4 linked regions of the Homo sapiens genome follow. The protein of the gene in region 1 purifies or fractionates together with the protein of each later gene. This does not show direct contact. Each region holds a gene or a part of one and is shown on either strand. Other genes may lie near its edges.

Region 1 (7,026 bases):
TGAGATTGCACCACTGCCCTCCGGCCTGGGCGACAGAGCGAGACTCCGTCTCAAAAAAAAAAAACAAAAACAAACTTTAAAATTGGAAATAACATATGTAAGCTCATGCACAGGCCTTTCATTTCCATAATGCTTCAAAATGCAGTCCTGTGTGACATCTTATTTGATTATTTTTATAGGGAGAAGATGCTCTGCAGTGGTTGTTTTCATACACTGCTGACTCTCACAGTGAAATGGTTTTAAGGGGTGCCATTATATATTGCTTACAGATTCCCTAGTGTCAAGTTCCATCCTCTATCATGTATATGTTATTCTGTGAGTAAGATACCCAGAAGGCCAAAATTAAAACTCTTTATGAAAGTTTAAATACAAATACAGAATAGTGTCAATTAAGATAAAGCAGTGTTTCTAAGTAATGTCATTGAAAAAAGAGGTATATTTCATCTCAAAACATTCTGGAATTCTCTTTTCGTGATGGTAGAGGAAATAACTGAACTTGAGTACAGTATTTTAAGTAATTATTTGTAATTAGGTTTGCCTTATGTACATTTATGAGCCAGTTTCTTAAATTTGTAGTAGATACTGCTATGGTCCTGATAGTGGGAAAGTACCAAATCAAGAAGTTTAACTTGAATTTGTGTACCTCCTGTCTCCCATTTTGTGTAATGGTTAGCATGGCATGCATTGGGCACTTATTTTGTTTGATTATGTATATGATCAAATTGAGTATCCCTGGAGGGATAAGGAAAAGGTAGTATGGCATCTTCTGTCAAAATGAAGTAATTGGGCACAGAGAGGTCATGTAACTGAACCCGTACGGGGGTCAAGATGGTGGAGCTTATGAGTTTTGACTCAGTCTTTACTATGCTAAACTTACCCAATCCCCAACTAAATCAAAAGGTGGCTTGCACTGGGATCTTTTTGACTTTACAATGGGTTTATCCGGATAGTAAATGCATTTTTTTACTTGAGAAGGGTTTATCCTGACAGTCTCATCATAAGTCAGGGAGCATCTATATAGTGCAGTAAAGGTGAAGGTGAAATATTGTATTACATTGCATGAAATGTCTTTTCATGGCTGGGCTGTAAACACCAATATAATTAGTCTAATTCTAGGCACTCTGGGTGGATCGATTGTGTTTATGCAATGTTGTTGGTTTAGGGAAACATTTGTTATTCATTATTTAAAGTAGCTTTTGTTTTGTTTGTTTTTGTTTTTGTTTTGAGACAGAGTCTCACTATGGCTCAGGCTGGAGTGCAGTGGCGTGGTCTCAGCTCACTGCAATCTCCACCTCCTGGGTTCAAGCGGTTCTAGAGATGGAGTTTCACCATGTTGGCCAGGCTGGTCTCGAGCTCCCGACCTCAGGTGATCTTCCCACCTTGGCCTCCCGGAGTACTGGGATTACAGGCATGAGCCACCACACCTGGCCTAAAGTAGCTTTTAATTATGGAGAATGTGGCAGAACTCACTTTTAGTAACAGCTTTATTCAATGTAATTTGTATACCATAAAATTTACACTTTTAAAGTATACAGTTTGGACCGTGTGCAGTGGCTCACTCCTGTAATCCCAGCACTTTGGGATGCCAAGGCAAGAGGATCACTTAAGCCCAGGAATTCAAGACCAGCCTAAGTAACATAGTGAGACCACGTCTCTACAAAAAAAATTTTAAAAATTAGCCAGGGGTGGTGGCATGTACCTGTGGTCCCAGCTACTTGGGAGGCTGCAGTGGGAGGATTGCTTAAGCCCTGGAGGTCAAGGCTGCAGTGAGCCATTATCTCACTACTGTACTCCAGCCTGGGTGACAGAGCAAGACCCTGTATGATTTGGTGGGGTTTAGTATATTCAGAGATGTTCAACCATCATTATTATCTAATTTCAGAACCTTTTTATCACCCCCAAAGAAAAGTCCTTTATATAGGACTAACAATTCCTTTTCATTTATCTTTTTATTTATTGAAGTGAAACATCACTTAGAACATGGTTCTCAGCTAAGGGACAGTCTTTTCATCCCAAACCCTCATCCCACCCCAGAGCATTTGGCAGTGTCCAGAGACGCTTTTGGTTGTCAGAGTGGAATGGGGATCGGGGATTACTATTGGCATCTAATGAGCAGAATCAGAGATAACTGCTAAAATCCCCCCATGACAAATTACCTAAGCTAAAATATCAGCAGTGCTGAGATAGAGAAACTCTGAGTTAAGAAGTAGGCTGTATTTATTTTAGTATCTATTATAACAAATCCTGTTTATTAAGAAAACCATGAATGTGTTGTCTCTTGTTTAACGGCTTCTGGACTTAGCAATATTTCCGTTTTTAAGATCTTTTATTAAACCTGTATGGGTATATAAAGAGCTGGAGGTGTGTTTTCCCCACTGTAGACCATGTATAAATAATTGGGACAGGTTTTGTTTTGTGAGGTGATTGATTTGTTAACTTTTTAACCAGTTCACATAAGATTTAGAGAAAATTAAAGAATTGGACCAGTTCATTGTTGAATTGCAAAGGATTGATAAACCTGGAGCATTAAACAGTGCTTTACTTATAAAGCAGAGGGAACACTGTTGAAATCTAAACATGTAATGGGCCTAGGTATTGAGGGAGCAAAGGGCATGGAGGATTTAGATAACATCTTTTCTCAGTTAACTGGAATGAAACGGAGTGGAACAAACACGGGCACCTACTTTAGGTTTATTGATTTTGCTTTCCAAGGGCTAATTCCTTTAAACCTGCTGCTTATATTTTGACTGAGTCAGTGCTGCTGCTACAGTTAAATAAGTTGAAGATCTTGTAAGGAATTTTAGCCTGTTTTTTTAAGACTCATCTAACAGGTGGGGCGCAGTAGCTCAGGCCTGTAATCCCAGCACTTTGGGATACAGAGGCGGGCAGATCACCTGGGGTTGGGAGTTGGAGACCAGCCTGACCAACATGGAGAAACCCCATCTCTATTAAAAATACAAAATTAGCCAGGTGTGGTGGTGCATGCCGGTAATCCTCGCTACTTGGGAGGCTGAGGCAGGAGAATCGCTTGAACCCGGGAGGCGGAGGTTTCGGTGAGCCGAGATTCCACCATTGCACTCCAGCCTAGGCAACAAGAGCAAAATTTCTGTCTCAAAAAAAAAGACTTATCCAACAGTAATTTCTTTTTTTTTTCCTTTTTTTTTTTTTCTTTTTTTTGTGGGGGACGGAGTCTCGCTTTGTAGCCCAGGCTGGAGTGCAGTGGCACGATCTCAGCTCACTGCAAGCTCCGCCTCCCGGGTTCACGCCATTCTCCTGCCTCAGCCTCCCGAGTAGCTAGGACCACAGGTGCCCGCCACCATGCCCGGCTAATTTTTTTGTATTTTTAGTAGAGACGGGGTTTCACCATGTTAGCCAGGATGGTCTCGATCTCCTGACCTCGTGATCCACCCGCCTCGGCCTCCCAAAGTGCTGGGATTACAGGCGTGAGCCACCACACCCAACAGTAATTTCTTAACCAGAGGGCCTGGGAGTGGGTGGCAATCAGAGGAGGGGGAGACTTGTGATTTGAAAAGACATTCTAAGATTTAAAAGTGCTTTTAATATTTTTTAGTCATGATATTTAATTTGTTTGGAAATTTCAAATAACGTTAAAGAAGAAACTTGTTTGTCAAAGGAGTCAAGGGGTGAGAGTTGAGAAACTGTGATCTACAAAGTTGATTTAAGCCAAATCGGACTAAAGGGCAGATTAATTCCACATTCTGCTGTTTTGGTAGAAGATACGTATATAGAACAAAGAGGAAAGGGATACCTTATTCAGATTGTTAATGTTCTTTTGTTGAACTTGACCTTATTGTACTGACCACCAGTTCTGTTTTTATCCTCCCAGTGGAAGGACAGGTTAATAATTGGATATTAGCTGATGGTACTAGATTAAGCCCCATGAGGGTAAGGATCTGTAGCTAGCATCATATTAATCCCAGACACTATTTTTGAATTAAATGATATGAAAAAGTCTAAAATAAGCCCACGCACTGTAAGTGGTTTACCTCATGTCTTACTCGTGTTCGCTTATTAAAATCTCCCATAGATCTTTGCATATGAGGCTGGGCACAGTGGCTCATGCCTGTAATCGCAGCATTTTGGGAGGCCGAGGTGGGTGGATCATTTGGGGTCAGGAGTTTGAGACCAGCCTGGCCAACATGGTGAAACCCCATCTCTACTAAAAATACAAAAATTAGCCAGGCTTGGTGGCACATGCCTGTAATCCCAGTTACTCAGGAGGCTGAGGCAGGAGAATCACTTGAACCTGGGAGGCAGAGGTTATAGTGAGCCAAGATGGCGCCACTGCACTCCAGCCTGGACAAGAGTGAGACTCCCTCTAAAAAAAAAAAAAAACCTTTGCATATGAGCTGCAGCAATAAAAGTGCTATGAGACCCAACCTCTCTGTAACCGTATTCTTTGAAAGCTGTGGAATAAGGCCAAGTGCAGTGGCTCACATCTAATCCCAGCACTTTGGAAGGCTGAGACGGGTGGACCACTTGAGGCCAGGAGTTGAAGACCAATCTGGGCAGTGTAGCAAGACCCCTGCCTCTACAAAAAATTTTAAAATTAGCTGGGCATGGTGGTGCATGCCTATAGTCCCAGCTACTCAAGAGGCTACAGTGGGAGAATTGCTTGAGCCCAAAAGGTCAAAGCTGCAGTGAGCCACGATTGCACCACTGCAAAAAAAGAAAAAAGAAAAAGCAGGCCGGGCGCGTTGGCTCACGTCTGTAATCCCAGCACTTTGGGAGGCTAATCACGAGGTCAGGAGATCAAGACCATCCTGGCTAACACTGTGAAACTAAAAAAAAAAAAAAAATTAGCCTGGCGTGGTGGCACGCGCCTGTAGTCCCAGCCACTTGGGAGGCTGAGGCAGGAGAAATTGCTTGAACCTGGGAGGCGGAGGTTGCAGTGAACTGAGATCGCGCCACTGCACTCCAGCCTGTATGACAAAGCGAGACTCCGTCTCAAAAAAAAAAAAAAAAGCGTAGGATGGATTCAAAATGTGATCTGGTTGATCATAAACAATACTTTTGGAGCTGGATTAATATTAAGTCACTTGAGAGATACAGAAAATACCATGTTCGTGGTCAACTTTGATTATTTTAGCCGGGTTCATCTGGTTTGCACATTGAGACCGTAATACTTCAGGTTCTAATTGTGTCCAGAAGGCTATGTGTTAACATTCATAGCAAACTGGTTACCTTTATTTCCTGAAAGTTAAATTTTGAAAGAAAGGGATACCAAGTGAGAAAGCAACCTTCAGTTAAACAAAGGGGTACATCAAGTTTGATATTCTTGGATTAAAAATCAGGTGACAATTGGAACATGGAGGAGAAATTCATGATTATAAAAACCATGAAGCCAATCTTTTTTACAACAAAGCTGCTTGTTTTTTTCTTAATCATGTAGTGGCTGCTATCAGGCCAGTTCTGGAACTTCACTGAGTCCCTCTGCTCTTCTGAATCAGCTCTTGATTGGTGGTGACTTCTCGGAAGTTCTGAGGACCACAAAGAAAGAGCAGTGTCAGTTCACTAAGTTGAGCCATTTGGAGATTACTAAATATTCCATAACTGTGGGAAACACTTAAATGTGTTGGTTATTAGGGTTTTCGTGTGTTTTCCTTTTAGCATTACATCCTCATATGCAGTGTTGTTATAGTAGAGGAGGACATTTTTTCTAGAGGGCAGAGAGATCTAGGGAATATGACTGTTAACATTTGAACACTTTCAAATAGCAGTACGTTTTACTGTGGTTTTGATAACCTGACATAGAATAAGCTGCTGAGATGCAAGGATACCTTGGTATATAGAAAGAGCCTTAGACTTCGTATGAAAAAAACTTAGGTTTTATCTTCAGCCTAGCCATCTAATGTCTCTGTAACTTTACAGACATCTGGTGTTTCACTTAACCTCTCTGAGACTTAGTTTCCTTTTCTGTAAATTGATAGTTGTGGCCAGGCACCATGGCTCATACCTGTAATCCCAGCATTTTGGGAGGCTGAGGCAGGAGGATCACTTGAGCCTGGGATCCTCCAGGATACTTGAGACCAGCCTGGGCAACATAGGGAATTAAAAAACTTTTTAAAAATCAGCTGGGCGTGGTAGTGTGCCTCTGTGGTCCCAGCTATTGAGGAGGCTGTGGGAGGATCACATGAGCATGGGAGGGTTGAGGCTTCAGATAGCCGTGGCCACACCACTGCACTACAGCCTGGACAACAGAGCAAGACCCTGTCTCAAAAAAAAAAAATGGGGCCGGGTGTGGCGGTTCACACCGTAATCCCAGCACTTTCGGAGGCCGAGGCAGGAGGATCACCTGAGGTTAGGAGTTCAAGACCAGCCTGGCCAACATGGTGAAACCCCGTCTCTACTAAAAACACAAAAAATTAGCTGGGCATGGTGGCGGGTGCCTGTAATCCCAAGTATTCGGGAGGCTGAGGCAGGAGAATTGCTTGAACCCAGGAGGCAGGGGTTGCAGTGAGCCGAGATGGCACCATTGCACTCCAGCCTGGACAACAAGAGCAAGACTCTGTCTCAAAAAAAAAAAAAAAAAGACAGTTGTGATTCCTTCCCTATATGGTTTGTTTACAAGTGTCAAAACAGTCTTCAAAACTGCCATACTGAATATGTTATGTGAGATACGAATTTTTATTGATCTTTTTTATCCAAAGAGCAGTGAAAGTAGTAACTGAATAGAAGTAGTTACAAAATTAAAGATCTCAAATGATAAGTGAATATAGTAGAAAATAAAAGGTTGCCCCCACACTCCAAACATACTCTCCAGGGTGTATCTCAAACACTCAGACCCTTTTCCGTACGTAAACATGTGTTTACACATAATAGGTATTCTGCAACTTTTAAATTTCTTATTTATGTCTGCATAGTACCCCTTCATGGAAATGCCATAATTTAACCATTTGAGGAGCGTCCATGTTATTTCTTTCTAAATAATGTTTTACAATATTGCATTGTACAACTCTGTAAATACCTGAGTATTGGTGAATAATCTTTCTCTTGCCTTTTAAA
Region 2 (7,026 bases), on another chromosome or scaffold:
CTCCCAAGTAGCTGGGATTACAGGCATGTGCCACCATACCTGGCTAATTTTTTTGTATTTTTAATAGAGACGGGGTTTTACCATGTTGGCCAAGCTGGTCTCAAACTCCTCCTGACCTCAAGTGATCCGCCTGCCTCAGCCTCCCAAATTGATGGGATTACAGGCATGAGCCACTATGCCCAGCCAGCCGGCCTCAGGACTGAGTGCTTATTGCTAGGTTTGGATATCCAGGTAGAAAAGGGTTTTAGCCGAGTGGCTGGTTATCTTTTTGACACAATCCCTGTCCTGTGAATGGCAGGCAGAGGAACGAGGACGCCTGAAGGAAGAGCTGGAAGAGGCTCGGGACATAGCCCGGCGGCGCTCTTTAGGGAATATCAAGTTTATTGGAGAGTTGTTCAAACTGAAGATGTTAACAGAGGCAATAATGCATGACTGTGTGGTCAAACTGCTTAAGAACCATGATGAAGAGTCCCTTGAGTGCCTTTGTCGTCTGCTCACCACCATTGGCAAAGACCTGGACTTTGAAAAAGCCAAGGTAGAGGTCCTTGCATCTGGAGGGGGATGGGCTGAAGCATATGTGGGGCTCACTGAGCCCACAATGATGGGGCGGAAGGCCTGAGGAGGGGTGGGGCCTGCAGTTATAGGTGGGACATGAGAAGTTCCTGGTCTGATGCCTTTCTCCTTCCTAGCCCCGAATGGATCAGTATTTCAACCAGATGGAAAAAATCATTAAAGAAAAGAAGACGTCATCCCGCATCCGCTTTATGCTGCAGGACGTGCTGGATCTGCGAGGGGTGTGTGTCCCCCTCCTCCCCACTGCCAGCCTGCTGCCTCCAGTTTCTGACACTGCCTTGTCTTGCCTTCCCTGACATCATCGTGACTGGCCCTCTGTCTCCACAGAGCAATTGGGTGCCACGCCGAGGGGATCAGGGTCCCAAGACCATTGACCAGATCCATAAGGAGGCTGAGATGGAAGAACATCGAGAGCACATCAAAGTGCAGCAGCTCATGGCCAAGGGCAGTGACAAGCGTCGGGGCGGTCCTCCAGGCCCTCCCATCAGTGAGTTCCAAGCTGGGATTGAGAAGGGAGCAGTGAAGGGACCGGGAGGTTATACTTTCCTCTGATGACTTCCTGTTAGTGCCACGTGTCTGGGCCACTGAGACACCATGATGGAACTGAGGATCTGAGGAAGGGAGGCTGGGGGTGGCCCAAGGGGAAGGGGCTGCTAGGATTTATTCATTATTCCAGTATGCCCCTCTTTTTGTGTCAGGCCGTGGACTTCCCCTTGTGGATGATGGTGGCTGGAACACAGTTCCCATCAGCAAAGGTAGCCGCCCCATTGACACCTCACGACTCACCAAGATCACCAAGGTAGGGGTGTGTGTGGGAGTGGGTGATTCAGCTCAGGTTTAGATCTTAGTCCCTTCACTTTTCTAAAGTTGAGAAGGTGACAGCTGAATGTTTCCTCTTAGACTAACTGGTTGGATTGCTGGAGACAGGACTGCCAGCTGTAGAGGGAGGGTGGTACTCCCATTAGTCTGGACCAGTGTTTGGCAAACACACACACACACACACACACACACACACACGTGCCAGATCCAGCCCATTCATACATCCCAGGACCCAGTAGTGGTTTTTACATTTTAAAGTTGCGAAAAATCAAAAAGTGAATGGTAATTTATGCTGTGGAAATTAAATAAAATGTAAATGTCAGTGTCCATGAAGTTTTATTGGAACACAGTCACAGCATGCCTTTATCATCTACAGCTGGTTTCATGCTACTGTGGCAGAATTGAGTAGTTGCAATAGAGACTGGCCCTTTATTAAAAAAGATTTTCTGACCCCTGGACTGGGCCATTCACTACCTGTTTGGTTGCATATGGTGGTGCTGGCCAAGGGACTCAGCCGGGTTGGACCTATGATTCTACTCCCCTTTTCTTCTTCAGCCTGGCTCCATCGATTCTAACAACCAGCTCTTTGCACCTGGAGGGCGACTGAGCTGGGGCAAGGGCAGCAGCGGAGGCTCAGGAGCCAAGCCCTCAGACGCAGGTATGGAGGCAGTGTCAGGAGCTGGGTGGTTACCCGTCAGAGCTCCCTTGAGGACAGAGCCTTTTCTGTTAGGGAGGCCTTCAGTACAAGGTGGTTAGGCAATGCGGGCAATAGAGGAGGTTTGTGTTGTGGTTCCAGGGATTGAACTGCTTTACTTTTGGGACTGGGACCAAGTGTCCTAAACTGGCAAGTAGGGGATAAAATGCAGGAAAGGAGAAAAAGATTTTAATACGGATTTTCTGCATCCCCAGCATCAGAAGCTGCTCGCCCAGCTACTAGTACTTTGAATCGCTTCTCAGCCCTTCAACAAGCGGTACCCACAGAAAGCACAGATAATAGACGTGTGGTGCAGAGGTGAGGTTTCCTGGACATCTTTGTTATTCACACTGGGGGTACCGTGATTGGGTTCTGGTTGTTGCCATAGGTTGGAAATTTCTTCATACCTGTCCTGGTTGGAGCCCTTGGGTTAGATTGGGGCATACTCATTATGCTAAGAACAAGGCCCAACAGTTGCTCAGCATGTTGTGTAATTACATGAGTGCCTGGGCAGTGCAAGTGAGTGAAAATTTGTCTGTCTGTCTTCCAGGAGTAGCTTGAGCCGAGAACGAGGCGAGAAAGCTGGAGACCGAGGAGACCGCCTAGAGCGGAGTGAACGGGGAGGGGACCGTGGGGACCGGCTTGATCGTGCGCGGACACCTGCTACCAAGCGGAGCTTCAGCAAGGAAGTGGAGGAGCGGAGTAGAGAACGGCCCTCCCAGCCTGAGGGGCTGCGCAAGGCAGCTAGCCTCACGGAGGATCGGGACCGTGGGCGGGATGCCGGTGAGAGTCTGGGAGAGGAATGGAGGGAAAGGCATTGGCTGCCTTGGGACTAGCTGGTCCCCAGCTTTTTGAGAGCTCCAAATCTTGTTTGCTGGGAAGACTGAAAAGTCCCTCTAATCTGTGTTCTCTTCCCACAGTGAAGCGAGAAGCTGCCCTACCCCCAGTGAGCCCCCTGAAGGCGGCTCTCTCTGAGGAGGAGTTAGAGAAGAAATCCAAGGCTATCATTGAGGAATATCTCCATCTCAATGACATGAAAGTAGGCAGTGGGAGCGGCGTGTGATTGAGGAGTGGGCAGGGAGGGATCATGCTGGCAGGCATAGGGGTCCGGGGTCTGGGTCAGACAGTGACTGGTCTCTTCCTGCTGTGCCCTGCACCCCTCAGGAGGCAGTCCAGTGCGTGCAGGAGCTGGCCTCACCCTCCTTGCTCTTCATCTTTGTACGGCATGGTGTCGAGTCTACGCTGGAGCGCAGTGCCATTGCTCGTGAGCATATGGGGCAGCTGCTGCACCAGCTGCTCTGTGCTGGGCATCTGTCTACTGCTCAGTACTACCAAGGGTATGACCAGCTTCTCTGGGCCTCCCACTTATACAGACCCACAATTTTCTATCTCCTTTTTGGGACCCTTGGAACCTTGCATAAGAGTGTAGGTTCCCTGGCCGGGTGTGGTGGCTTATGCCTGTAATCCCTGCACTTTGGGAGGCCAAGGTGGGTTGGATTCCTTAGAGGATCACGTGAGGTTGGGAGTTCTAGACCAGCCTGGCCAACATGGTGAAACCCTGTCTCTACTAATAATACAAAAATTAGCCAGGCGTGGTGGCACAGTAATCCCAGCTACTCGGAGGCTGAGGCAGGAGAACTGCTTGAACCCGGGAGGTGGAGGTTGCAGTGAGCCGAGATCGTGCCATTGCACTCCAGCCTGGGTGACAAAAGCAAAACTGTCTCAAAAAAAAAACCAAAAAACAGTATGGGTTCCTTGACCATCCTGGTCAGCATAACTTTAGGGGGTTAAGCGGGGTGAAAACCATCTAAGGACACAGAGGTGGCCTTAGCTTGAAATAATTGTCCCCATGTCTAGAAAATGTTCCTGGGGGTTCCATAGTTGATGCCCTAGCCATGCCACGTTGCCCCAGAAGGAGAGTGGGGACCTGGCCTAGAATGTCTTGACTTTGAATTCCCTTGGCAGGTTGTATGAAATCTTGGAATTGGCTGAGGACATGGAAATTGACATCCCCCACGTGTGGCTCTACCTAGCGGAACTGGTAACACCCATTCTGCAGGAAGGTGGGGTGCCCATGGGGGAGCTGTTCAGGTAAGTCCCCCTGGGTGGAATTCAGGGGAGGTAAAGACCAGAGGAAAGGTGGTAGGGAAATGGCTGGGTTGGATACCCTGGTTTGGAGGGAGATGGAGTAGTGGTGAGAGAACTGTGGAGGCTGTCAGCATTAGGTTTTTCTCTTCTTGTAGGGAGATTACAAAGCCTCTGAGACCGTTGGGCAAAGCTGCTTCCCTGTTGCTGGAGATCCTGGGCCTCCTGTGCAAAAGCATGGTGAGTGAGGGCCAGGAGTCCAGAGATGCCTCCCACGGTGTGGTTTTGGCTGTTTGCTGTGGCCCTGAAGCTTCATGGTCCATTGGTGGAGTGGAGTGATGGTGATGACAGGATTGTGTTGGTACCTGGGAGAGGAAATACTGAGGTGGGCCATCTCCCGCACACCAGTTCCTATCATGAGTTCTGGCCAAGACTGGAGGAGAATGGCAGTCTAAGACCCTAGGCCTGTGATTGATGCATTTATTTATTCATTCATTGAACTAGGGTTTTGTTGATGATCATTTATCATATACTAAGCACTAGGGACACAGCAATGAATAAAACACAAGAAACAAGTTGGTAGAGAAAAAGGAAGAAATGGGCCGGGCGCAGTGGCTCACGCCTGTAATCCCAGCACTTTGAGAGGCCGACGTGGGTGGATCACGAGGTCAGGAGTTCAAGACCAGCTTGGCCAATATGGTGAAACCCCATCTCTACTAAAAACACAAAAATTAGCCGTGTTGTGGCAGGTGCCTGTAATTCCACCTACTCAGGAGGCTGAGGCAGGAGAATCACTTGACCCGGGAGGCGGAGGTAGCAGTGAGCCGAGATTGTGCCACTGCACTCCAGCCTGGGAAACAGAGCAAGACTCTGTCTCCAAAAAAGAAAAAAGAAATGACAGCTTGATAAAAACAACAGTAAAGCGTGACATAAAACAGTTGAAATAGAGTGGAGTATCTTAAGTACTGTGGGGTTGCAAAGGAATATTTGACAATATTTGTGACAGGAGGCTTTCAGGGTGCTGAAGCGGCTTTGTGAAAGTTAATTGGTAACTAGCGAATATAAAGGTAAAGAGATGGGGAAAGGTAAGTTGAATGTGGTACTTAGTGGAAGTGAGAAGTTGGGGTGAGTGTGTGCAGTTTCAAGGGTTCAGCCATCTGGAACCTGGAGGAATCACACTTGGGATTTAAAGGAATTGTTATGTCAACATCATTTAATTCTTTTAAATAGACGTGTACCAGGACAAGTTGTTTTTTAACAACAAATAAGCATATTGAACTATTTGTGTATTTCATCAACTCCAAGGTGCCATAGATTATAAGACATTCTTTATGCGCTGTTAAGAAAGAAAAGACTGGGCCGGGCGTGGTAATCCCAGCACTTTGGGAGGCAGAGGTGGGTGGATCACGTGAGGTCAGGAGTTGGAAACCAGCCTGGCCAACATGATGAAACCCTGTATCTACTAAAAATACAAAAAAATTAGCTGGACATGGTGGTGCGCACCTGTAGTCCCAGCTACTTGGGAGGCTGAGGCAGGAGAATTGCTTGAACCCAGGAGGGGGAGGTTGCAGTAAGCCAAGATTGTGCCACTGCACTCCAGCCTGGGCGACAGAGCAAGACTCTGTCTCAAAATAAAAAAAGATATATATCGGCTGTAAGACAACTTTTAGTTAAAATGTGAAAAAATGGGCATGTTTTAAAATCTGTGAACTGCAATAATCTTGCTAAGAGCCAGTGCCATTAGTCTGTTATAAAGAAAAGAGTGATGTCTTCATAGTCTATTGCCCCTTACAGAAAATGCACTCAGACTGCTGGTTTTATGAGGATTTTTTATTTGTGTTAGGGATGGGGTATATTTGTGTCTTAAGATTTTCTGGGTTTAGGAAACAAGCATACTTGTTAGAAGTTGTCCCTTCCTAGAGGCCCTTACATCATTTTTCCTACCCTAGTGTCATAGCACTTTGGTGGACAAGTTCTCTTTTATTTTATTTTATTATTATTATTTTTTTGAGACAGAGTCTCGCTGTGTCGCCCAGGCTGGAGTGCAGTGGCGTGATCTCAGCTCATTGCAACCCTCGCCTTGGGTTCAAGCGATTCTCCTGCCTCAGCCTCCCGAGTAGCTGGGATTACAGGCACCCACCACCACGCCTGGCTAATTTTTGTATTTTCTGTAGAGACGGGGTTTCACCATGTTGGTCAGGCTGGTCTCCGACTCCTGACCTCAGGTGATCCGCCCACCTCGACCTTTCAGAGTGCTAGGATTACAGGCGTGAGCCACCGCCCGCTCCTGGGACGAGTTCTTATTTATTTGGGTGGTTATTTGACTGACATCTGTGCCCTGCACCAGACCGTAGGAATGGAAGGGCTTTGCCTATTAGTATTTCTATAGCATCCTTAATGCCTAGCAAGTACCTAGTAGGCTTTCAGTAAATATTTGTTGGATTAATGTGGTAGAGCTGTTGGGTCCTTGGAGAGAGAGAGCTTTGGTAAGCTGGGTTGGTCTTGTGTTTTCCAGGGTCCTAAAAAGGTGGGGACGCTGTGGCGAGAAGCCGGGCTTAGCTGGAAGGAATTTCTACCTGAAGGCCAGGACATTGGTGCATTCGTCGCTGAACAGGTTTGGGGATGGAGTTGGGTTAATTCTAGCATTTGAGGCTGGCCAGTCTTCTTTCTTGTCTCCTGTTGGCAACCTTACCTCTTAACTGCGGGCCTTTTCCATTGCAGAAGGTGGAGTATACCCTGGGAGAGGAGTCGGAAGCCCCTGGCCAGAGGGCACTCCCCTCCGAGGAGCTGAACAGGCAGCTGGAGAAGCTGCTGAAGGAGGGCAGCAGTAACCAGCGGGTGTTCGACTGGATAGA
Region 3 (7,026 bases), on another chromosome or scaffold:
CTTTCCTTCCTTCCTTCCTTCCTTCCTTCCTTCCTTCCCTCCCTCCCTCCCTCCCTCCCTCCCTCCCTCCCTCCCTCCCTCTTTCTTTCTTTCTTTCTCTTCTTTCTTTCTTTCTTTCTTTCTTTCTTTCTTTCTTTCTTTCTTTCTTTCTTTCTTTCTTTCTTTCTTCATTTCTGTCTTGATGAACAGTGTTACTCTTAGGAAAGCAATATTACATACTAGCCAAGAGAATCTTGACGACAGACTTGGATTCAGATCCTTATTCCAGCAGTAAGCATGACCTTGGGGAAGTTATTAAATTTTCTAGGCCTCAGGTGTATCCTTTGTAAAATGGGGATGATGATAAAGTAGTAACTCATAAGGGTTGTGAGAATGAAATTCCGAGGTATTTAAAGTGTTTAGTATAGTACCTGTGTCATCGTAAACACTCAGATTACTGTGTCTTTACCACTCTCATCCTTATTAATGTTTCTCAAATCATTTCGAATGCTAACTTTGCTAATGTAGATTGGAATTGTAGAAAGAGCACTTCAGTGCTCCTGGTAATCAGGAGACATGCATTCCAGTCTGCATCCACCAGTAACTAACAACACTTCTATGATTGTTTTACTCCAAAGGTACATTTTCTCATCCACAAAATGATTGCCACTATCCCTATCAATTTTCATGGTTTATGGTTTCTTTCTTTTGCTTTCATACCTGAATCCTGAGGGTTCTTATTGGTGTGTGACCCCAGTCAATCACTATCCTTCCTTTTAGGCCACTTACTCCTTTCCTTTTATGTTTCTTCTCCATCTGTGCATATTGGAGTGCCTCATGGTTTAGGTTTTGGCTTTTCTTTTAGTCTCTGCTTGACATAGGTAGTGTAACGAAGTTGATAAAAGTACATGCTCTGGAGCCAGACTGCTTGGATTTGAATCCCAGCTCTGAAATTTGCTGCATGACATTGGGCAAGTCTTTGTGCCTCATTTTCCTCATCTGAATTGTTTTGAGACTTTAAATGGATTGAATATATGTCAATAACTAGAACAATGTCTGGGACAGAATAAGTCACCATTTAAGCTTTGCTGCTGCTTTATTTGCAGTAATTATAGTAGTATTCTTTAAGGTATTCTTATCTGTGCTCACGGCTTTAAATATTTATATTCTAATAAGTCCTAGATTTATATTTCTGCCAGTAATGGCTCTTGAATGCCTCTTTTGAATACCCATTGCCTGTTTGACGTCACTATTTGGATATCTCATAGGCATCTCATATTTAACATGTACAAAATAGAATTATAGACTTGTTCTTCTCCTTACTTTCCATCACAGCACCCTATATTTCTAGAATTTTCCACAGCCTGTAACTATCTTGTTTGTTTTCTTCTTTGTTTTCCTCATCAGAATGTATGCTACTGAGGGCAGGGACTATGCTTTTTCACCTGTTTTATCTCCAGTGCTGAACCTGTTAATTCACAAAGTAGGATAAATGAATGAGTATGTATTCCATTTTATTATTTATACTAATTTATGTTCTAATATCTTATGCAGGTTATTTTAATATTGTTTTCCCCTGCCTTCTTCAGTCTACCATTCATACTTTTATTTTATTTTATTTTATTTTATTTTATTTTTTTTTTGAGACGGAGTCTCGCTCTGTCGCCCAGGCTGGAGTGCAGTGGCGCAATCTCGGCTCACTGCAAGCTCCGCCTCCCGGGTTCACGCCATTCTCCTGCCTCAGCCTCCCAAGTAGCTGGGACTACAGGCGCCTGCCACTACGCCCGGCTAATTTTTTGTATTTTTAGTAGAGACGGGGTTTCACCGTTTTAGCCGGGATGGTCTCGATCTCCTGACCTCGTGATCCGCCCGCCTCGGCCTCCCAAAGTGCTGGGATTACAGGCGTGAGCCACCGTGCCCGGCCTCATACTTTTATTAAAACGTTTATTTAACGTGAACATTCAGATTTTAACTTCTTTCCTTAGATGTTTTCAGTGACTTTCCATTGAATTGAAGGACCAAAATGTTGTCCTTGTTTCTTGCATTTATGTTCAGGTTTATTTCCTTTCTTTCCAAGCTTTGTAGGAACTGTACATTCCAGCCCCTCAGACTACTTAGTTTTTTCTTTAATAAGTCATGCTAAAGGCCAGGTGTGGTGGCTCACGCCTGTAATCCCAGCACTTTGGGAGGCCAAGGCAGGCAGATCACACGAGGTCAGGAGATCAAGACCGTCCTGGCTAACATGGTGAAACCCTGTCTCTACTAAAAATACAAAAAATTAGTCGGGCGTGGTGGCGGGTGCCTGTAGTCCCAGCTACTCAGGAGGCTGAGGCAGGGGAATGGCATGAACCGGGGAGGCGGAGCTTGCAGTGAGCCGAGATTGCACCACTGCACTCCAGATTGGGCGACAGAGCGAGACTCCGTCTCAGAAAAAAAAAAAAAAAAAAAAAAGTCATGCTAAAGACAGACCTAGAGTCACATCCTTATTCAAAGCAGTAAGCATGACCTTGCTTTTGTTCATGAAGTTCTTTCTCTTTGAAATTGTTCTCTTTCATCATCACATATTGAATAAAAAATGTGACTTAATCGACTTACTCTGTTTTTTTAAAAATTCTCCATATAGTTTAACTTGAATCTGTATACTCCAGATGTATTCTGTTCTTCATTCATTTAACAAATATTTATTGATTGCCGACCACATGCCAGGTCTAGCCCTGCTACATGCTGGGGTATATTGCAGTAACCTATATAAGATATTATATAGGTGAGCAAGGTAGAACCCAGTCCCGACTCTCATGACCATTCTCAGTCATATATAGATGTAGATGAACCCAGAGATTAATCTCATCCTATGTTTAGCCTGATGTTTTAACACATTTGTTCCTTCCTGGCACATTGATAGTGGCCAAGACCAATTTTTCTTGTATTTTTGAACCCTTCCTTTCCTACCTTTAGACCTGTTTCATCACTTCCTCTGTATCTGTAATGTAGCAGTCCCTCCACAGGGCTTGTTTTCCAAAGAAAAGTAAGCCCTCCACAGGGCTTGTTTTCCAAAGAAAAGTATCATTTGGAGGAGCAAAGTTATAAGCCTACCTAAGCATGTCGTAAAGCTGTTCAAAAATAACTCAGAGCTAGTCTTGTGGATGGAAATGTAGTGCCTGAGTCACATTCTGCTTAAAGTTGTAACAAATACAGATGAGTTAAAAGAAAAAAAACAAAAATAAAGAAAGAATGGGTCTTCATTCTGTCAGGTGGTCTCATTGTTCCTAGACAAGATCAAGCTAATTCTTCCCGTTAAACTTTTCATGTTGAACCCACTTTGTTCCCTAGAACATTTGAATTTTACCTTTCTTATGTTCATTAGACCTTGCTATTCAAAGTATGATCCATGTCCAGTAAGATGAGCAATGTTGGCTACACTTGAGTTTGTTAGAAATGCAGACATACGTATCACAGAATCTCAGGCCCCTCTCCTGACCTACACAATCAGGTGATTTATAGCATTTTACTGTTTGAGAAGAAGCTTGCTCTCTTCCTTTCTCTGAGCTTTTTAATGACAGCTTGTATCATTCACCTTGGTATGTGATCCATACTGTTAGTGATTTACTGTTAATATATTTTCCCCTTCTCATTGAGATGATAACCCTTTTGAAGGCTGAAGTATAAAACATTTGTCTCCTCCATAATTCAGTGCTTGAAACCCATTGCTATTGAAATTTCTTACCTTTTAAATTTTGTTTTCCCCTTTAAGTTATCTTATTAGATACCTTATTCCCCTGGTTTTGTAAGTAAGGTAGAGTATGTTATTAATAAATAGAAAAGTATGAGTTACATATACAGTCAGCTCTCTATATCTTTGGATTCTGAATCCAGCAATCTCACATCCATGGATTCAACCAACCATGGATCGAAAATACTAGGAAAAAAACAACTAAAAATACAAATAAAAACCAATACAGTATAATAATTATTTACATAGCATTTACATTGTATTAAATGTTATATGCAATCTAGGGATGATATATAGGAAGATGTGCCTAGGTTATATGCAATAACTAATGCTACACCATTTTATATAAAGGACTTGAGCATCTGCGAATTTTGGTATCCAGTTTGGTCCTTGTTTCTGTCTGAAACTCTTTTTACTTGTTGCTTATTTCTTCACACTAGAATATCAGCTTCCTGAAAGTGGCACCCATGTCAGGTTTGTTCACTACAGTATTTCTAAGGGTCTAGAACAGTACCTCGTGTATAGAAGGCACTCAGATGTTGTGAATGAATGAATATACTCCTGTTGTGTGGAAATTTTCTTGAAAATCAATCATGAAGAAACTGGGTTAGTAAATGCTTGAGTGTTGGTGAGAAAAGAGCACACAGTTGAGGATAAGCTAGTTAGCTTTCTGGGCTTGTTCATATTTCTCCATCTTTTTATTTGTTGATTTCTTATCTGTTTGAAAAATCACTAATATTAATTGGACACCTATTATAAGACCCTGTACAGGGATGTTTGGTTAAATTTTGTGTTGTTTGGTTAAATTTTTTGTTAAATTTTAGATGTTGTGATCCTCACAACAGCTTTGGGGATAAATGTTATCACTACCTTACCTACCTGATGGTTATTCAAATCTAATGGAAAAATTTTGGTGGAAGTACTTTGTTTTTTATTTTGTTTTGTTTTGTTTTTGTTTTTTTTTTTGTTTTTGAGACAGAGTTTTGCTCTTGTTGCCCAGGCTGGAGTGCAATGGCATGATCTTGGCCCACTGCAACCTCTGCCTCCCAGGTTCAAGTGGATCTTGGCTCACTGCAACCTCCGCCTCCCAGGTTCAAGCGATTCTCGTGTCTCAGCCTCCCAAGTAGCTGGGATTACAGGCATGCGCCACCACGCCTGGCTAATTTTTTGTATTTATAGTAGAGACGGGGTTTCACCATGTTGGTCAGGATGGTCTCGAACTCCTGGTCTCAGGTGACCCACCCACCTTGGCCTCCCAAAATGTTGGGATTACAGGTGTGAGCCACCGCAGCAGGCTGGTGGGAATGCTTTGTGAGTTGAATCAAATACTTCGAATTTGTAATGCCAGGCTATCACATGTGTCACTGTAGATTTTTTGTGATACTCTTATGAATTTAAAGAGACTGGACAACAGCTTGTTTAAATTCCATTGAAATGGAAGCTCTTCTCTGAGATCCTGGTCTGAAGTATAATACAGTTTGGCCTTTTAATGTTTTAACAACAAAAAAAATTATATGACCCTTGGCCTCTTCTTCCAGTTTTCTGACTTGAGTGGTGCATACGTAAGTTGTTTGACATGTGAGATAATTTTTTCAGTCAGATAATTTGAAATCCTTTCAAGCACCAAAACTTGCACATTTTAGCTATTTTAATTATATGTGTTTCTGAAGTGTAATACATAATTTTCTGCTGCTTTAGTCAGAGAACATGGAACACAATCTAACCATGTTTTGATGGCATAGTATTATCATTAAGAACATGTTATTGGGCCGTGCTCCCGCCTGTAATCCCAGCACTTTGGCAGGCTGAGGTGGGCGGATCACCTGAGGTCAGGAGTTCGAGACCAACCTGGCCAACATGGCGAAACCCCATCTCTACTAAAAATACAAAAGAAATTAGCCGGGCATGATGGCGGATGCCTGTAATCCCAGTTACTCAGGAGGCTGAGGCAGGAGAACTGCTTGAACCTGGGAGGCAGAGGTTGCAGTGAGCCGAGATCACACCACTGCACTCCAACCTGGACGACAGGCAGAGACTCTGTCTCAAAAAAAACAAAAAAACAAAAAAACATGTTATTGAACCAGACAGGACAGTAGATCTGTCAAGAAATCCCTTCGGGTAGTCTGTTATTTCTATAATAAATGTCCCCTGTTGTTGAACTTTAGGTGCCTTGAGTGGTTTATGTTTCTAGTTGGTGCCTTTTTTGGTTGTTAAATTTATCTGTTTCTTATCCCCTTGCTTTTCAGGTTTTTTTTTGCTGTGAGTGAAAAACCAGTTATGCAGGATTATCTCTAACCTGAGTATTTGTGAGTGAGGATTAAATTCGTTATGCAGTCTGACATTTTGATTGCTTAGTTATATTTTTTGCTTAGGCAAGTAAGATGTTATTGCTTACAAATAGTAACTTTTTATAATAGAAAAATCATTTAGCGTACATTATTATATCTTGGTAGCTCCAGGAACTGGGCGGACTAGTATTATCTGGATTATACATGTGATTCTCCCACTCCAAGAAGCTGGGTGGCTTTTCAAAGACATAAAGTGAATATATCCTGGAGCTTGAATTCAGATCACATCTAGCCATCCTTGACTCATTTTCTTTTACATTTTATAGCAGCTTCATATACTTGAAGACCCCAGTAGTTATTCTGTGTTATGTGACAGGTACTGTTTTAAGTATTGTGTATTTATTATGGCATTGAAGCAATACAACAACTCTTTGATATAGGAACCATCATTATCCCTATTTTATCAATGGGGAGACGTGGGTACAAATAGTTTATGTGATTTGATTAATGTACAGATGGAGGAAATAGAAGTTAAGGTGTGTACAGAATAGTTAATCTAGTGCTTCTTGTTTGAGCATTGGGAAATATGTTTTTCAGAACTCAGGTGTCTTACAGACTTCTAACTTTAAAATGTATGAGAAAACATACATTAGAATCTTTACGTTTGATAATCAGTCATATTGTAGAAGATTTGTAGCTATAAGAAGTCAATTTAGTAAATATTCTGAAGTTTGGAAAAATGCAACCTTAAACTGCTGAGTTCACATATTAAGATACTGGGGATCAATAGTAAAGAAAATCAGCATATTAAGGAGCATTGGGAAGAGTACTGGTACGTGTCCCTAAGTAAGTTAGTTTACCTGCATTGGGTGGTAATTCTAAGTCCATCTGACTTTTCCTTTTTTTTTTTTCCTTTGAGACAGAGTCTTGCTCTGTCGACCGGGCTGGGGTGCAGTGGCCCGATCTTGGCTCACTGTGATCTCCACCTCCTAGGTTCAAGCGATTCTCGTGCCCCTCAGCCTCCCGAGT
Region 4 (7,026 bases), on another chromosome or scaffold:
GTACTGACTTCAGGGATTTACCATTCATTTAATACTTCAATGTATTGCCATATTCTGATTTTGTTACTTGACCTAATAATGTTCTGTATAATACTTACTTTCCTTCAGTTCAGGATCTAGTCTAAGGTCACGTATTTTACAGATAATAAATTGTCCTTCCTCTATCACCCAGGCTTGGCGCCACCCAGTGGCACCATTGCAGGCTCATTGCAACCCCAGCCTCCCAGGTCAAGCGGTTCTCCCACCTCAGCCTTCCTGAGTAGCGGGGACCGCAGGCACACGCCATGACATATGGCTAATTTTATTTTTTGTAGAGATGGGGGTCTCACTTTGTTGTACAAGGTAGTCTTGAACCCCTGGGCTCAAGTGATCTCCTGCCTTGACCTCCCAGAGTGCTGGGATTACAGGCGTGAGCCACCGCACCTGGCCGAGCCGTGATTTTTGATCTAGCTAATCCGGCTGTCGGAGGCCTGCTAGGGAAAGGGGCGGTTGTGGGAGGCAGTGTGAGGCGAGCTGGGGCCACTCTAGGGAAAGGGACAGTTGTGGAAGGCAGTGTGAGGCGAACGGGGGCCACTCTAGGGAAAGGGGCAGTTGTGGAAGGCAGTGCGAGGCGAGCTGGGGCCGCTCTGTTTTCGCCCTCATGGGTTGTGTCTGCCTTCCCCTCTGGTGTTGTAAGGGACCGTCTGTTACACACTTTGTGTGAACTGAGTAAGCAGGTGCAGTAGCTCCAGACAAGCCAGCAGTCAGGTAAATCATGGCTGGGAGGAGCCCCCAGGCTCTGAAGTTTCTATCAGACCTGTGCTGGCTTTCGAACTGGATGGGACTTGTTTTTTTGTTTGTTTGTTTGTTTGTTTGTTTTGTTTTTTTTTTTTTTGAAACTGAGTTTCATGCGTCGCCCAGACTGGAATGTAGTGGCACGATACCAGTTCACTGCAACCTCCACCTCCCGGGTTCAAGCTATTCTCCTGCCTCAGCCTCCTGAGTAGCTGGGATTACAAGTGCCTGCCACCACGCCCGGCTAATTTTTGTATTTTTAGTAGAGACAGGGTCTCACCATGTCGGCCATGGTTGGCCAAGCTTGTCTTAAACTCCGGACCTTGGGTGATCCACCCACCTCGGCCTCCCAAAGTGCTGGGATTACAGGTGTGAGCCACTGCGCCCAGCCGTATTTTTTTAACTTGTTAGTCTTTATTAAACATGGGTAAAGATAGAGTTCCACACTGCGCCACCCTCTGGATCACTTAGCAGCCTTGTGTGGGATCGGTGAGATCTTCTGTGCTGATCTTGGAGAAACCGGAGCGCCTGCAGCGTATTGACACCAGAATGAACAAGCGCCGCTGCTTCCCGCTTCCGCTTGGGTCTCTTGGGGCCGGGCAGTGTGGGGTTTGGGGAGAGAGCTGGTTCCGCGAGTTCTGACGGCGTGTTCTGGCCGCACAGACAGACTGTGATCCTCTCGTGAGAGGAGGATAGTGTACAGTGTTGCCCTTCTCTTCTAGGTACCTGGTGACCTTTAGCCCCCTGATGGACACGCAGGATGACCCTCAGGCCATAATCATCTGGGACATCCTTACGGGGCACAAGAAGAGGGGTTTTCACTGTGAGAGCTCAGCCCATTGGCCTATTTTTAAGTAAGTGGACCATTGTAACGAGCTCTGTAGCCTTTGTCTTTTCATGGGAATACCCTGGCACTTTTGTTTTTCTTAGGTGGAGCCATGATGGCAAATTCTTTGCCAGAATGACCCTGGATACGCTTAGCATCTATGAAACTCCTGTAAGTGGCCTCAGTGATGGCAAACGCCCCGTCCGGTCCTTGCTTGTAACCGGGGTGTGGTGCCTTTCCTTATTTGTGCTAGAAGAGGAGGAGGAGGTTTCACAGATGCATAGGAAAGGCCTGTCTCCTGTGCCTTTTTAACTGCCCCTGCTCTGGGCAGAGCTCTTCAGTCACTCCTGCCCACCTGGCGCAGCCGTGGGAAGTCCTGGATGGGAGTTAATGCAGTGGGCTTCAGAACTGCAGTTCTGGGTGGCGGGTGGGTGGATGGGTTCACTGTCACGCTCTGTGTGCACTGCCCCCTAGGCAAACTCACATCAGACTCTTGTTTCCTTTTGTAAAAAGTTAGGTGTGTTTCTGAGACACTGACATGATTTGACTCAACTGCAGCCTTCCTTTTTTTTGGGCAGTCTATGGGTCTTTTGGACAAGAAGAGTTTGAAGATCTCTGGGATAAAGTGAGTATTCTTATCAGTTTGGTGTCTTAGTGTGTTCAGGCTGCTTAACACAATACCAAAAAAAAAAAAAAAAACACAATACCATAGGCTGGGTGGCTTATGACAGCTGAGATTTCTTTCTCCCAGTTCTGGAGCTTGGGAGCTTGAGGTCAGGGTGCCTGCAGACTGTCTGGTGACGGCCCACCTCCCTCCTAGTGGACAGCCCCTCGGTCCAGCCTTCCCTGGAGGAAGGCCTCCGTGGCCTGTTCTGTAAAGTCTCTCATCTCATTCCCAAGGGCTTCCCCCTCAGGACCTCCCACCCCCCAAAAGGCCCCACCCCATGCCGTCACCCCAGGGGGTTAGAATTTCACCCTGTGAATCTGGGGGACACAGACGTGGTCCATTGCAGTTGGTTTCCTTTATTTGCTGTCTCTCCTTTAGCACTCAGCTTTTTGTTGTTGTTGTTAGAGACAGAGTCTCGCTCCGTCAGGCTGGAGTGCAGTGATACGATCTTGGCTCGCTGCAACCTCCACCTCCTGGGTTCAAGTGATTCTTCTGCCTCAACCTCCCGAGTAGCTGGGACTACAGGCATGTGCCACCAAGCCCGGCTAATTTTTGTATTTTTAGTAGGGATGGGGTTTCACCATGTTGGCTGGGCTGGTCTCAAACTCCTGACCTTGTGATCTGCCCGCCTCAGCCTCCCAAAGTGCTGAGATTACAGGCGTGAGCCACCATGCCCAGCCTGTCACTCAGTTCTTAACCAGTTGGAGAGAAAACGGTGAGTTTGTTCTTTTTTTAAAATTTTTTTTTTTTTTTTTTTTTTTTTTTTTTTTTTGAGGCAGAGTCTTACTCTGTCTTGCAGGCTGGTGTAGAGTGGCGAGATCTTGGCTCACTGCAATTTCCACCTCCTGGGTTCAAGTGATTCTCCTTGCCTTAGACTCCCAAGTAGCTGGGACTGCAGGTGCCTGCCACCATGCCTAGCTAATTTTTGTATTTTTAGTAGAGATGGGGTTTCACTGTGTTGGCCATGCTGGTCTCAGAACTCCTGACCTCAAGTGATCTGCCCACCTCAGCCTCCCAAAGTGCTGGGATTACTGGCGTGAGCCACCACACCCAGCCATTTTTAAATCTTTTTTGAGACAGAGTCTTACTCTGTTGCCCAGGCTGGAGTACAGTGGCGTGATCTCGGCTGACTGCAGCCTTCACCTCCCAGGTTCAAACGATTCTGGTGCTTCAGTCTCCTGAGTAGCTGGAATTACAGGCGCGCAACCACTACGCCCAGCTAATTTTTTGTATATTTTAGAAGAGTCGGGGTTTCACCATGTTGGCCAGGCTGGTCTCGAACTCCTGACCTCAAGTGATCCGCCTGCCCGCCTCAGCCTCTCAAAGTGCAGGGATTACAGGTGTGAGCCACCGCGCCCGGCCTAAGGTGAGTTTGTTCTGGACACAAGGATGGAGGCTTGAGTCAGTGGGCAGCAAGGCTGCTCAGCATTGGGCCCGCCACCCTTGAGGCACCACTTCAGTGACCCCTTCCCGTGCCTAGAAATGAATTTTCAAGGCCAGAGCCTTGAGTCGGCTTCCTTCCATCTACCTCGTCTTTGATCTAGAAACTGAGGAGGGTGGGGTTTCCAGCCTTTTAAGGAAAAGAGGGGACTCTGCTTAGGTGAAAGGTTTTCCTGGTACTCTTCCATCCGAGGCAGGGTTTGGGGAGCCTTCGGCTCATTTTCACCAGCAAAGAATGGGCACGTTTTTATTTATCGCAAAACTTGGGACTGGTCAGTATCACGGCAGTGAACTTCCAACAATCCAAGGACATTGACGTTTCTTCTTTCGTTTTTACATTCTTGGGCAAAATTATGGCTTATAAAATGAAAAGACCAGGACGTTGGTTCTCAAAAAATGCAAAACAGCACATAGCGTGTATAAAGATGTTTTTCATGTAGGTGAGCTCAGGAGCCGTTCGTTACAGCAGCTCTTCTGTAGAGTAGTTGATAAAGTGGAGGGAGCTGCCCTTGTTCTTGCTCATTCCTTACACTTGATTTGCCATTTTCCCCATTTGCACCTTAATTAATCTTTAGATGACATGTAGCCAGATCCGTCAGCCTAAAACTTATTTGCCTCAAAGCAGCAGTGTGCGGTGTCTTAAGAGTGGGCTGACGGAGCCCAGGCTGGAGTCCATATGAGTCTGTGCGTGATGGTGGGGTTGCTAATATTCTGTCTGCATTCACTCCTTGTCACAGTGAGCACAGTAGTGCCACAGGGTCCTGGCGAGGACCTATGAAGCTGCGCGGCATGCCCAGAGCAGTGGCTGTGCAGAGGGAGCGCTCAGCGTCAGCTGTGACAGCATTGAGCTTCTATATAGCAAATGAGTTGTTCTATTCTCTTCTGCTTTTCAGTTTCGTCATCACTTGGTCTTTGCTTTAACATTTTATTTTCCTGTTCTGCAGAGACTTTTCTTGGTCTCCTGGTGGTAACATAATCGCCTTCTGGGTGCCTGAAGACAAAGATATTCCAGCCAGGGTAACCCTGATGCAGCTCCCTACCAGGCAAGAGATCCGAGTGAGGAACCTGTTCAATGTGGTGGACTGCAAGCTCCATTGGCAGAAGAACGGAGACTACTTGTGTGTGAAAGTAGATAGGACTCCGAAAGGCACCCAGGTATGTAGATTCCCACAGGAACTGACGATTCCTTATCCTGAGCTCTGAAGTGGCCACCGTATTGTTTGGAGGGTGTTAATGGATTTTTTTTTTTTTTTTTTTTTTTTTTTTTTGAGATGGAGTCTCACTCTGTCACCAGGCTGTAGTGCAGGAGTGCGATTTCGGCTCACTGCAGTCTCTGCCTCCTGGTTTCAAATGATTCTTCTGCCTCAGCTTCCCAAGTAGCTGGGACTATAGGCGTCCACCACCACGCTTGGCTAATTTTTGTATTTTTATTAGAGACAGGGTTTCACCATGTTGGCCAGGCTGGTCTTGAACTCCTGACCTTAGGTGATCTGCCCGCCTTGGCCACCCAAAGGGCTGGGATTACAGGCGTGAGCCACCGTGCCTGGCTGAGAATATTATTTTCTTTCTAAGCACAAGGAGTAGTATACTCAAGATTTATTTTTTTATTTTTTTATTTTTGGTGGTTGATCATTTAATATTTATTTTATCAAAAAATTGCCTGAGTTGGCTGGGTGTAGTGGCCCATGCCTGTAATCCCAGCACTTTGGGAGGCCGAGGTGGGCGGATCATGAGGTCAAGAGATTGAGACCATTCTGGCCAACGTGGTGTGAAACCCCATCTCTACTAAAAGTACAATAATTAGCTGGGCGTGGTGGGAGGCTCCTGTAGTCCCAGCTACTCGGGAGGCTGAGGCAGGAGAATCGCTTGAACCCAGGAGGCAGAGCTTGCAGTGAACAGAGCGAGATTGCGCCACTGCACCCCAGCCTGGCGACAGAGCCAGACTGCGTCTCACAAAAAAAAAGAAATTCCTGAGTTTTCCCTCTAATAGAAGTATTCTTCTTTCTTTTATGTTAAGAAAGCTTTAATTGACATGTAGTTCACATGCCTGAAAACACCCCTTTAGAGTGGTGAACTGGTTCAGTGGTTTTTCGTGTGTTCAGAGTTATGCAGCCACCACCACTCATTTCAGAACGTTTTCATCGGCTGGGTGCGGTGGCTCCCCCGGGGTGGGAGGGAGGATAGCTTGAGGCTAGGAGTTTCAGACCAGCCTGGGAAACACAGTGAGACCCCATCTCCACAGATAATTTTTAAAAGATAGGAAAAAGGCCGGGCACGGTGGCTCACGCCTGTAATCCCAGCACTTTGGGAGGCTGAGGCGGGGCATCACAAGGTCAGGAGATCGAGGGTTTAGTAGAAACCCCGTCTCTACTAAAAATGCAAAAAATTAGCCAGGCGTGGTGGCGGGTGCCTGTAGTCCCAGCTACTCGGGAGGCTGAGGCAGGAGAATGGCGTGAACCCGGGAGGCGGAGCTTGCAGTGAGCCGAGATTGCACCACTGCACTCCAGCCTGGGCAACAGAGTGAGACTCCGTCTCAAAAATAAATAAATAAATAAATGTTTTTGTCACCCTACAAAGAAACAACATACCTGTTAGCAGCCTCTCCGCCCAGCTCCTGGCATCACGAATGTCTATGATTTCCCTATTCTGAACACACAGCTGGAATCGGATACTATGCCACCTTCTGTGTTTGACCTCCTTCACGGAGCACAGCGTTCCCACAGCTGGTCCACGGTGCTGAGTGTCAGCAGTAATCTCTTGTTGGGTGGACCCCGTTTCTTGGCCTCCTTCCTCTGTTGATGGACATCAGGGCAGTTTTCCCTCAGACTCCTCGAGTAGGGCAGGACTTCTTGAAGGTTATGGCTACAGGACACCCCACTGTCTGAAGTGGTTTACCCAGCCCCATTGGTGTGCCTTTAGGGCCCTCAGGACCCTGGCCTGCAGCCTGCAGTGTGGACCCTGGGACTGCTTGTGCCCAAGTGTGGCGGGCAGGGCGGCTCCTGGAGGTGGGATCTGGGTCAGAGTTACTTCATGCATGTCCAGTGGCTTCCAGTAGACGTGGTGCCGGCAGTTCTCCAGCCTTAGAACCGTCTTCCATCCTGAGGGCTGTGGCTTTCATCACTGCACATGCTCGTGTGTGAACCAGGCATGCACACTGAATCTTTCATTGTGACGTTGATCTTTGATTTAAACCTTTTCTCATATTTTCACTGTCCAGAATGTCACCCCTTCCCCCTTTTTTTTAAACAGGGTGTTGTCACAAATTTTGAAATTTTCCGAATGAGGGAGAAACAGGTACCTGTGGATGTGGTCGAGATGA

Evidence for each region.
Region 2: the proteins of EIF4B (region 1) and EIF4G1 fractionate together in Homo sapiens (co-fractionation; 4 studies listed by BioGRID, with this or other methods). This does not show direct contact.
Region 3: the proteins of EIF4B (region 1) and EIF3H purify together in Homo sapiens (affinity purification with mass spectrometry; 3 studies listed by BioGRID and IntAct, with this or other methods). This does not show direct contact.
Region 4: the proteins of EIF4B (region 1) and EIF3B purify together in Homo sapiens (affinity purification with mass spectrometry; 3 studies listed by BioGRID and IntAct, with this or other methods). This does not show direct contact.

The regions. Positions count from the first base shown.
Region 1 is NC_000012.12:53,009,443-53,016,468, forward strand, and holds part of EIF4B (eukaryotic translation initiation factor 4B), read left to right. Parts: intron 1-7,026. UniProt on the Homo sapiens protein: Required for the binding of mRNA to ribosomes. Functions in close association with EIF4-F and EIF4-A. Binds near the 5'-terminal cap of mRNA in presence of EIF-4F and ATP.
Region 2 is NC_000003.12:184,324,580-184,331,605, forward strand, and holds part of EIF4G1 (eukaryotic translation initiation factor 4 gamma 1), read left to right. Parts: intron 1-298; coding exon 299-535; intron 536-689; coding exon 690-794; intron 795-900; coding exon 901-1,060; intron 1,061-1,116; exon of another isoform or gene 1,117-1,192; intron 1,193-1,271; coding exon 1,272-1,372; intron 1,373-1,947; coding exon 1,948-2,050; intron 2,051-2,301; coding exon 2,302-2,404; intron 2,405-2,636; coding exon 2,637-2,869; intron 2,870-3,006; coding exon 3,007-3,125; intron 3,126-3,250; coding exon 3,251-3,423; intron 3,424-4,051; coding exon 4,052-4,177; intron 4,178-4,329; coding exon 4,330-4,411; intron 4,412-6,686; coding exon 6,687-6,785; intron 6,786-6,892; coding exon 6,893-7,026.
Region 3 is NC_000008.11:116,745,808-116,752,833, reverse strand, and holds part of EIF3H (eukaryotic translation initiation factor 3 subunit H), read left to right. Parts: intron 1-5,707; exon of another isoform or gene 5,708-7,026.
Region 4 is NC_000007.14:2,364,821-2,371,846, forward strand, and holds part of EIF3B (eukaryotic translation initiation factor 3 subunit B), read left to right. Parts: intron 1-1,496; coding exon 1,497-1,628; intron 1,629-1,704; coding exon 1,705-1,771; intron 1,772-2,113; coding exon of another isoform or gene 2,114-2,137; exon of another isoform or gene 2,138-2,152; intron 2,153-2,178; coding exon 2,179-2,225; intron 2,226-4,651; coding exon 4,652-4,862; intron 4,863-6,956; coding exon 6,957-7,026.